Homo sapiens: one gene and its partner. The gene in region 1 interacts genetically with each later gene. Each region holds a gene or a part of one and is shown on either strand. Other genes may lie near its edges. The genes, in order: UCK2 and MAP4K1.

What was found.
Region 2: changes in UCK2 (region 1) and MAP4K1 together harm fitness less than expected from each alone (positive genetic interaction), as found in Homo sapiens cells (one large-scale study listed by BioGRID).

What each region holds. Positions count from the first base shown.
Region 1 is NC_000001.11:165,886,577-165,890,389, forward strand, and holds part of UCK2 (uridine-cytidine kinase 2), read left to right. Parts: intron 1-3,627; coding exon 3,628-3,787; intron 3,788-3,813. UniProt on the Homo sapiens protein: Phosphorylates uridine and cytidine to uridine monophosphate and cytidine monophosphate. Does not phosphorylate deoxyribonucleosides or purine ribonucleosides. Can use ATP or GTP as a phosphate donor.
Region 2 is NC_000019.10:38,593,842-38,597,654, reverse strand, and holds part of MAP4K1 (mitogen-activated protein kinase kinase kinase kinase 1), read left to right. Parts: intron 1-60; coding exon 61-169; intron 170-259; exon of another isoform or gene 260-270; coding exon 271-329; exon of another isoform or gene 330-402; intron 403-517; coding exon 518-621; intron 622-1,168; coding exon 1,169-1,343; intron 1,344-1,653; coding exon 1,654-1,716; intron 1,717-1,925; coding exon 1,926-2,015; intron 2,016-2,099; coding exon 2,100-2,170; intron 2,171-3,813. UniProt on the Homo sapiens protein: Serine/threonine-protein kinase, which plays a role in the response to environmental stress. Appears to act upstream of the JUN N-terminal pathway.

The DNA of each region.
Region 1 (3,813 bases):
ACGCCACTGTGCCCAGCTGAATTATTCTTAAGGAACAAGATGACACCTCAGAGCTCCATTTCATCCTTTTGAAGAGAGGGGCAGGATTAGGCAAAAGGAGAACACAGAGATGATAGTGAAAGAGATACAGAGGTGAGTGTTAAGTAAGCGAAAGAGCATTTATTCAGGGCAGAGTAGAGTCTCTTTGTGGGACTCCTCCTTCCCTCCCTGCCTTCTTCCCTACCAGGTAAAAATTCAAACCTACACAACAATAGAGAGGATGATATAACCAAACCCTATGTACATGTCAGCCAGATTCAACAGTTATCCGGATTTTTTAGGGCCCATTTGTAATATGGCCCAGGAGGAAGAAAATGCCTGAACAATCTAGATTAACCTAGAGGCAGGTGTTTCTTTGCTTATTTGTGCAATTTTATTTATCTCCTTCCTGATAAAGGGCTTCTTCTGCCTTGGGACTTCTTACTATCTAAGGTTGAGGTAAAGAGCCAGGACTCTATGAAACCACATTACTTAACTTGGTTTCCTCATCCATGTAGGAGAGCACATGTGGCTTCTAAAGGTGGTCATAATGGAGTGTTTGGCACAGGGACTGCTGCCTAATAAGTAATCATTTACACTGTTAGCAGTGGTAGTGTGTTTGTGGAAGGGAAGGGTCACCAGCCAGGTCCTTGAAAACACAGGACTGAAACATGCAGCGGGGGATCAACACAATTAGTCATACTGTATCATTGATCAAGGGTTGGGATGAGCGCTGATTTTCTAGAATTGCACCTACTGTATGTTCATTATCCCATTTTACTGGCCATTGTACAGGTTCTGTCCTAGATTGTGCTGGGTTAAGGGAAACAGTAGTTTATCTGCAAAATTAGGTAGTGTAACTTTTTAATATGCTTTTTTGATGGTGATGGGATTGCTATTTACATTAAAAACATTTTATGGGTTTTAAATATAAATAAAAATATCACAATTTGAATAACTAGATAATATACATTTGGCTTCGTGAATCACTTTTTTGTTTTTGTTCTTTGGAATTCTAGGAGGAATTCTATCTACTAATAAAGGCTGCAGACTTTATCTTCCTACAACCTTAGGACGTAAGAAACGTCCTAAGATAGATGCCTGGGAGGAAAAGGAAATTGAGGGCCTACAGGTGTTTAAAAACCTATAGTTTATAATTGCTTAGAGCCTTTGATTTCCCCCCCCACCCATCCATCTGTAGCACCCAGAGAGCCTTGGTTTTGTAACATTTTCACTTTTGAATCTAGTTTATCATATGAAAGTTTTACTGTTCTGTGATATTTTGGGGCATGGGAGGATCTGTGGTCCCAAAGTCCAGAGTAGTTTTAAATGTTTTTCTGTGTTAATATGCAAAAGTATCATGAAGGCGAAATAAATTGTTTGCAAATAATTGAGTCAAAATATTATTGTTCCTCCAAAGATCCTTACTTAGTCGTGTGTCACAGCTTGTATAACAGGACGTATTTTGCAGAGCTGTTTAGTTTGCACTGACTTGTGCAACAGGAATGGCCAGTTTTCCTTACGCTCAGGGCAATCAAACACAACTTTATAAGAATTGTAACTTTAAAAGATTTCATATTTTTGTTGTTGTTGTTGTTAAAATCGTTGATGAAATAAATTCAATAGTAAAACTTCTAAGATTTGAGTCATCAAACCTCTAAATATGCTGTTTTTCTGTTCTGTTCTGTTCTGTTCTTTTCTCTTTTTTCTTTTTTTTTGATGCAGTCTCACTCTGTTGCCCAGGTTGGAGTACATGGCACGATCTCAGCTGACTGCAACCTTTGTGTCTTGGGTTCAGGCGATTTTCCTGGCTCAGCCTCCCGAGTAGCTGGGACTACAGGCATGTGCCACCATGCCTGGCTAATTTTTGTATTTTTAGTAGAGGCAGGGTTTCACCATGTTGGCCAGGCTAGTCTCAAACTGACTTCAGGTGATCCACCCACCTTGGCCTCTTAAACTGTGGGATTATAGGTGTGAGCTACCCTGCCTGGCCTAAATATGCTGTTTTTCCTTTCTATTTATTCGGTTGACCAGTTTCTTTCTTCTTCTTTTTTTTTTTTTTTTTTTTTTTTGAGATGGGGTCTCACTGTGTTGCCCAGGCTGGTCTCGAATTCCTGACCTCAAGCAATCCACCCCCTTCAGCCTCCCAAAGTTATGGGATTACAGGCATGGGCCACCGTGCCCGGCAGGTCAATCAGTTTCATTAGAAGACTTGGGTTATGTCTCCTACAGCTTGTGTAATACAGACATTTTTATTTTTACATTAGTCTTTGTATGAAATGAAAAAAGAAATCAGTTATTTGATAAATACAATCCTTCACTATCTCATTCTATTGAATGCACTTGTTTCATAATGTTCCTTTTACGAAGAGTATATTGAAGGGAAAAAGGGGCAGACACATGTATTACTATCTGTTTTTCTTTTTTTTAAATTTTAGGATACATGTATTACTAACAACAACACACAAAGCATGTAGGTTTGAGTTCATTTGGAGTTGGCTTCTCCACTCTTGTTTGGGATACTCCTAAGTTGTTTTAGATGTTGGTGGTGTTTGTGTTCCTTGTCACCCTGTCTGTGGTGACACACGTTTGTGAAAAGGCCACCTGGTTTACTGTAGATGTGAAGTCATGGCTGTGGACTGGAGCAAAAGTAACCAACAGAAGTAGGATTAACGCTGTGAGCATAGCCTTCTTGCTAACTAGCTGAGCTCTCTGGCCATGGTTTTTGGTTCCGTTGATATAAAGAGATGTGCAGGGGCTGAGTGGCATTCCATGGATGTGCAGTCACCTTGTGATTCCAAGGCCCTGTAGCCCCTCAGCACATCATCACCATGCCTTCATTCTACTTTCTGCTGCCTTTTTTGTCTGTCTATACCAGGGCACAAGCAGACAGGATCAGGTAGCCCTACCTTTATCAGTGGCTCTGGGAAAGGCTCTTCTGGAGGAGGAGGTGGTGTGTGCTGCCCTCCTTCCCCCACCATCACTGCAAGTACCTGACAGTAGTAAGCTGTGTTAAGGGAAGGGAGGAAGGAACTTTGGGGATCCTAAGACTTCTCTGTCACAGGCGTGTAAGGCGGACTCTTCTCCGTTAGCCTTTTTTTTTTTTTTTTTTTAATTTAACTTTTAAGTTCAGGGGTTTGTTACATAGGTAAACTTGTGTCACAGAGGTTTGTTATACAGATTATTTCATCACCCAGGTATTAAGCCTAGTACCCATTAGTTATTTTTCCTTATCCTCTGCTTCCTCCCACCCGCCACCTCCAGCAGGCCCCAGTGTGTGTTGTTCCCCTCCCTGTGTCCATGCATTCTCATCATTTAGCTCCCACTTACAAGTGGGAACATGCAGTATTTGGTTTTCTGTTCCTGTGTTAGTTTGCTAAGGATAGTGTCCTCTAGCTCCATCCATGTTCCCACATGAGACGTGATCTTATTCTTTTTATGGCTGCATCCCTTAGCCCTTTAACTCATCATGCACGATAGCTGCCTTTGGATTCTTCCTTCCAGAGCCCCTTCTTGGAAGGTGTGCATCAGCTTGGTTACTCTCGGGACTTCCTCTGTACCACACGTGCCCTTTCTCTTATTCCTGGGTGCTCTCTTCTCTCCTCACAGTCTTCCGTGTGTGCTAAGATCGTGCAGCTCCTGGGGCAGAATGAGGTGGACTATCGCCAGAAGCAGGTGGTCATCCTGAGCCAGGATAGCTTCTACCGTGTCCTTACCTCGGAGCAGAAGGCCAAAGCCCTGAAGGGCCAGTTCAACTTTGACCACCCGGGTGAGTCGGGCATTGAAGGGGGTATG
Region 2 (3,813 bases), on another chromosome or scaffold:
GGAAGTGGTATATGGGATCCTATAACTTCCTGCTTCCCCCTACATACACACACCCTGCAGGAAAGACCCCCCACCTGTATTCTCATAGCATCCTTGGCCTGCTGGAACGGAAAGAGACCAGAGCAGGAAACCCCATCGCTCACATTAGCCCCCACCGCCTACTGGCAAGGTACCAGCTCCCAATGAATGGCACCACACAGCCTTATAATTCCTCCCATGCCCCTCTGCCTCCTGCTGTCCTACCCCCCTTCACACCTACCTATTCTCCAGGAAGAACATGGTTTCCACCAAGATCCAGGACACCAAAGGCTGCCGGGCGTGCTGTGTGGGTGAGAGAGAGCTTCACGGGTGTGCAGAGAGTGGGCGGGGCCAGGCCAGAGGAGGGGCTTGAACTGCATCCACCTGAGAAGGTTACAGAGTTAAGGCAATGTGTCCAGAACCCAGAAGATGGGTGGTAGTGTGGGTGGCGAGGAGGATAGAGGGCATTGATCTTGACTCATCCTTGCCCATGCCACAGCGGAGGGTGCGAGCTCTGGGGGCCCGTTCCTGTGCGGTGCATTGGAGACGTCCGTTGTCCTGCTTCAGTGGTACCAGCCCATGAACAAATTCCTGCTTGTCCGGGTAAGGGGCTTGGGAGGGTGCTGGGAACTCTGAGGAGTGGGTGGCTAAGGCCTTGCACCCTTTGCGCTTCTATCAAGAGCTCCATGAAGCCCCACCTCCGTCGAGGCCCCGCCCCAATCTCCCGAGGCCCCGCCCACCTGCGGTCTGCGCTTGGAGCCTCGTCCTTCTGAAGCCATCCTGATCCTTAAGCGCCGCCCCTCACACCTGGGCCTAATTATTCCTCAGGCTCAATGCTGCCACTCCCTGGGTGTCCTAGTAGAGCCCATTTAGAGCCTGTCTCTTTGAGTGTCTAAGCAGGTTTTGCTATCTTTGGGGCCCTGCCCGTCTGCCGCCAAGGTGGCATGCCCCCACATGGAAGCCACACCCACTCGGAGGTCACGACCCCCGTTCCCGCGGAGGCACCAGGCCTTATCCCCTGACATTTCTAGACGGCATCCCCCAAGACTTAGGGCCCTGGTTCGGAAGTCCCAGGCCAGCTACAAGCCACGCCCCCTGAGGCCCCGTCCTGAACCACCCCCTAGCCCGCCCCTCCCTGTGCGGCCCGCAGCAGGTGCTGTTCCCACTGCCGACGCCTCTGTCCGTGTTCGCGCTGCTGACCGGGCCAGGCTCTGAGCTGCCCGCTGTGTGCATCGGCGTGAGCCCCGGGCGGCCGGGGAAGTCGGTGCTCTTCCACACGGTGCGCTTTGGCGCGCTCTCTTGCTGGCTGGGCGAGATGAGCACCGGTGAGTGGGGCGGAGTCTTGCTGAGGGCGGGGCTTATCAGATCCGGAGGGGCGGAGCTGGAGGCGGGGCTTCGCTTAGCCTGAGGCACTACGGGACTGAGAAAGGGCTGGAAGGGCGGAGAAGGGAGAATGGCAGGTTTTAGTTAACTGGGGAGATTGATGATGGGGTGGGACCGGGATGGTGGGCGGGGTTTAGCCCACTTGCTTGTGAACTGAGGCGGTGGCTAAAGCACAGGTACTGGCCTTCTGGGGGTGGTGTGGGGAAAGGGGAATGGGGTGGGGTCAATCCTTAACCCACTCCCCCCAAACAGAGCACAGGGGACCCGTGCAGGTGACCCAGGTAGAGGAAGATATGGTGATGGTGTTGATGGATGGTGAGAACCCTCCTTCCTCCCCTTCCTCCCCACCCCTCCAGCTGCAGTCCCTAGATCTCTGCCTCCGAACTTGTGCTTCTCAGAACCCCCTGAGCCCCTCTGGGCCTTGCCCCTGTCCTACATAGCTTTCACACTGAATTTATGGATTGGTCCCTTAGTAACCCTCTAAGCCTTGCTCACAGTTCTTAAAACCGTCTATCTCCTTCCAGGCTCTGTGAAGCTGGTGACCCCGGAGGGGTCCCCAGTCCGGGGACTTCGCACACCTGAGATCCCCATGACCGAAGCGGTGGAGGCCGTGGGTCTGTGCAGGGACGGGAGAGCCCAGGATCAGGGGTGGAAACTCAAGTGATCCCCAAGGGTAACGGGCATTGCTTTCTCCCCAGCTATGGTTGGAGGTCAGCTTCAGGCCTTCTGGAAGCATGGAGTGCAGGTGTGGGCTCTAGGCTCGGATCAGGTAAGCCCCTCCATCCAAACTCCACATCACTGCCCCCCAGCCTCCATCATGACATTCATCAGATGGGCTCCGAGAACTCCTGAGTCAGAGTGTGAAGTCCTGGAGGGGAAACATCTTCCAAATTTCAGTTCAGATAGATCCCCTTCTTTGCCCCAGGATTTATTTTTTATTTTATTTTTATTTATTTATTTATTTAAGACGGAGTTTCACTCTTGTTGCCCAGGCTGGAGTGCAGTGGTGCGATCCCGGCTCACTGCAACCTCCACCTCCCGGGTTCACGCGATTCTCCTGCCTCGGCCTCCCAAGTAGCTGGGATTACAGGCATGCGCCACCACAGCTGGCTAATTTTTGTATTTTCAGTAGAGACGGGGTTTCACCATGTTCATCAGGCTGGATGGTCTTGAACTCTTGACCTGGGGTGATTCACCCGCCTTGGCCTCCCAAAGTGCTGGGATTACAGCTGTCAGCCACCACACCCGGCCTATTTTATAGATAGATAGATAGATAGATAGATAGATAGATAGATAAAATTTATTTATTTTTGGAGATGGATTCTTGCTCTGTCACCCAGGCTGGAGTGTAGTGGCGCGATCTCGGCTCACTGCAGCCTCTGCCTCCCAGGTTCAAAGAATTCTCCTGCCTCAGCCTCCTGAGTAGCTGAGACTACAGGTGCATGCCGCCATGCTTAGCTAATTTTTTTGTATTTTTAGTAGAGACAGGGTTTCACCATGTTGCCCAGGCTAGTCTCAAACTCCTGAGCTCAGCCAATCTGCCTTCCTTGGCCTCACAAAGTGCTAGGATTACAGGTGTGAGCCACCACTCCTGGCCATTTTTATATATTTTTTGAGACAGAGTCTCGCTCTGTCACCCAGGGCAGAGTGCAGTGGCATGATCCGAGCTCACTGCAACCTCTGCCTCCTGGGTCCAAGTGATTCTCCTGCCTCAGCCTCCCGAGTAGCTGGGATTACAGGTACACTCCATCATGCCCAGGTAATTTTTGTATTTTTAGTAGAGACGGGGTTTTGTCATGTTGGCCAGACTGGTCTCGAACTCCTGACCTCAAGTGATCTGCCCGCCTCAGCCTCCGAAAGTGCTGGGAGTACAGGCGTGAGCTACTTCACCCGGCCTGTTTGTTTTGGAGATAGGGTCTCTCTCTCTTGTCCAGGCTGAAGTGCAGTGGTGCAACCATAGCTAGCTGTAGCCTTGACTTTCTGGGCTCAAGCAATCCTCCCTCCTCAGCCTCTCAAGTGGCTTGGATTACAGGTGTGAGCCACTGCACCTGGCTGCTCTTGGATTTCTTGAGTCCCAATCTCATCCTGGGCCACTACTGTGACCTTGGGCTGGCAACGTTGCTTCTCTTTAAGCTTCTGTTCCCCAACTGTAAAATGGGGACCACTATAGAGATATATGGATAGTTAAGACAAGACTGTCTGGGTTGGAATTCAGCTGAGTGGCCTTGGGCAAATGACTTAACCTTCCTGTGCCTCACTGTCCTCATTTGGAAAATGGTGTTTATCTCACAGAATACTGTGTCAGACTTTGCCCTTACACTTTAGTATTTTTATTTATTTATTTTTGCTCACTCAGTTCCTTCCCTCTTTTTGAAATGGAGTCTCGCTCTGTTCCCCAGACTGGAGTGTTAG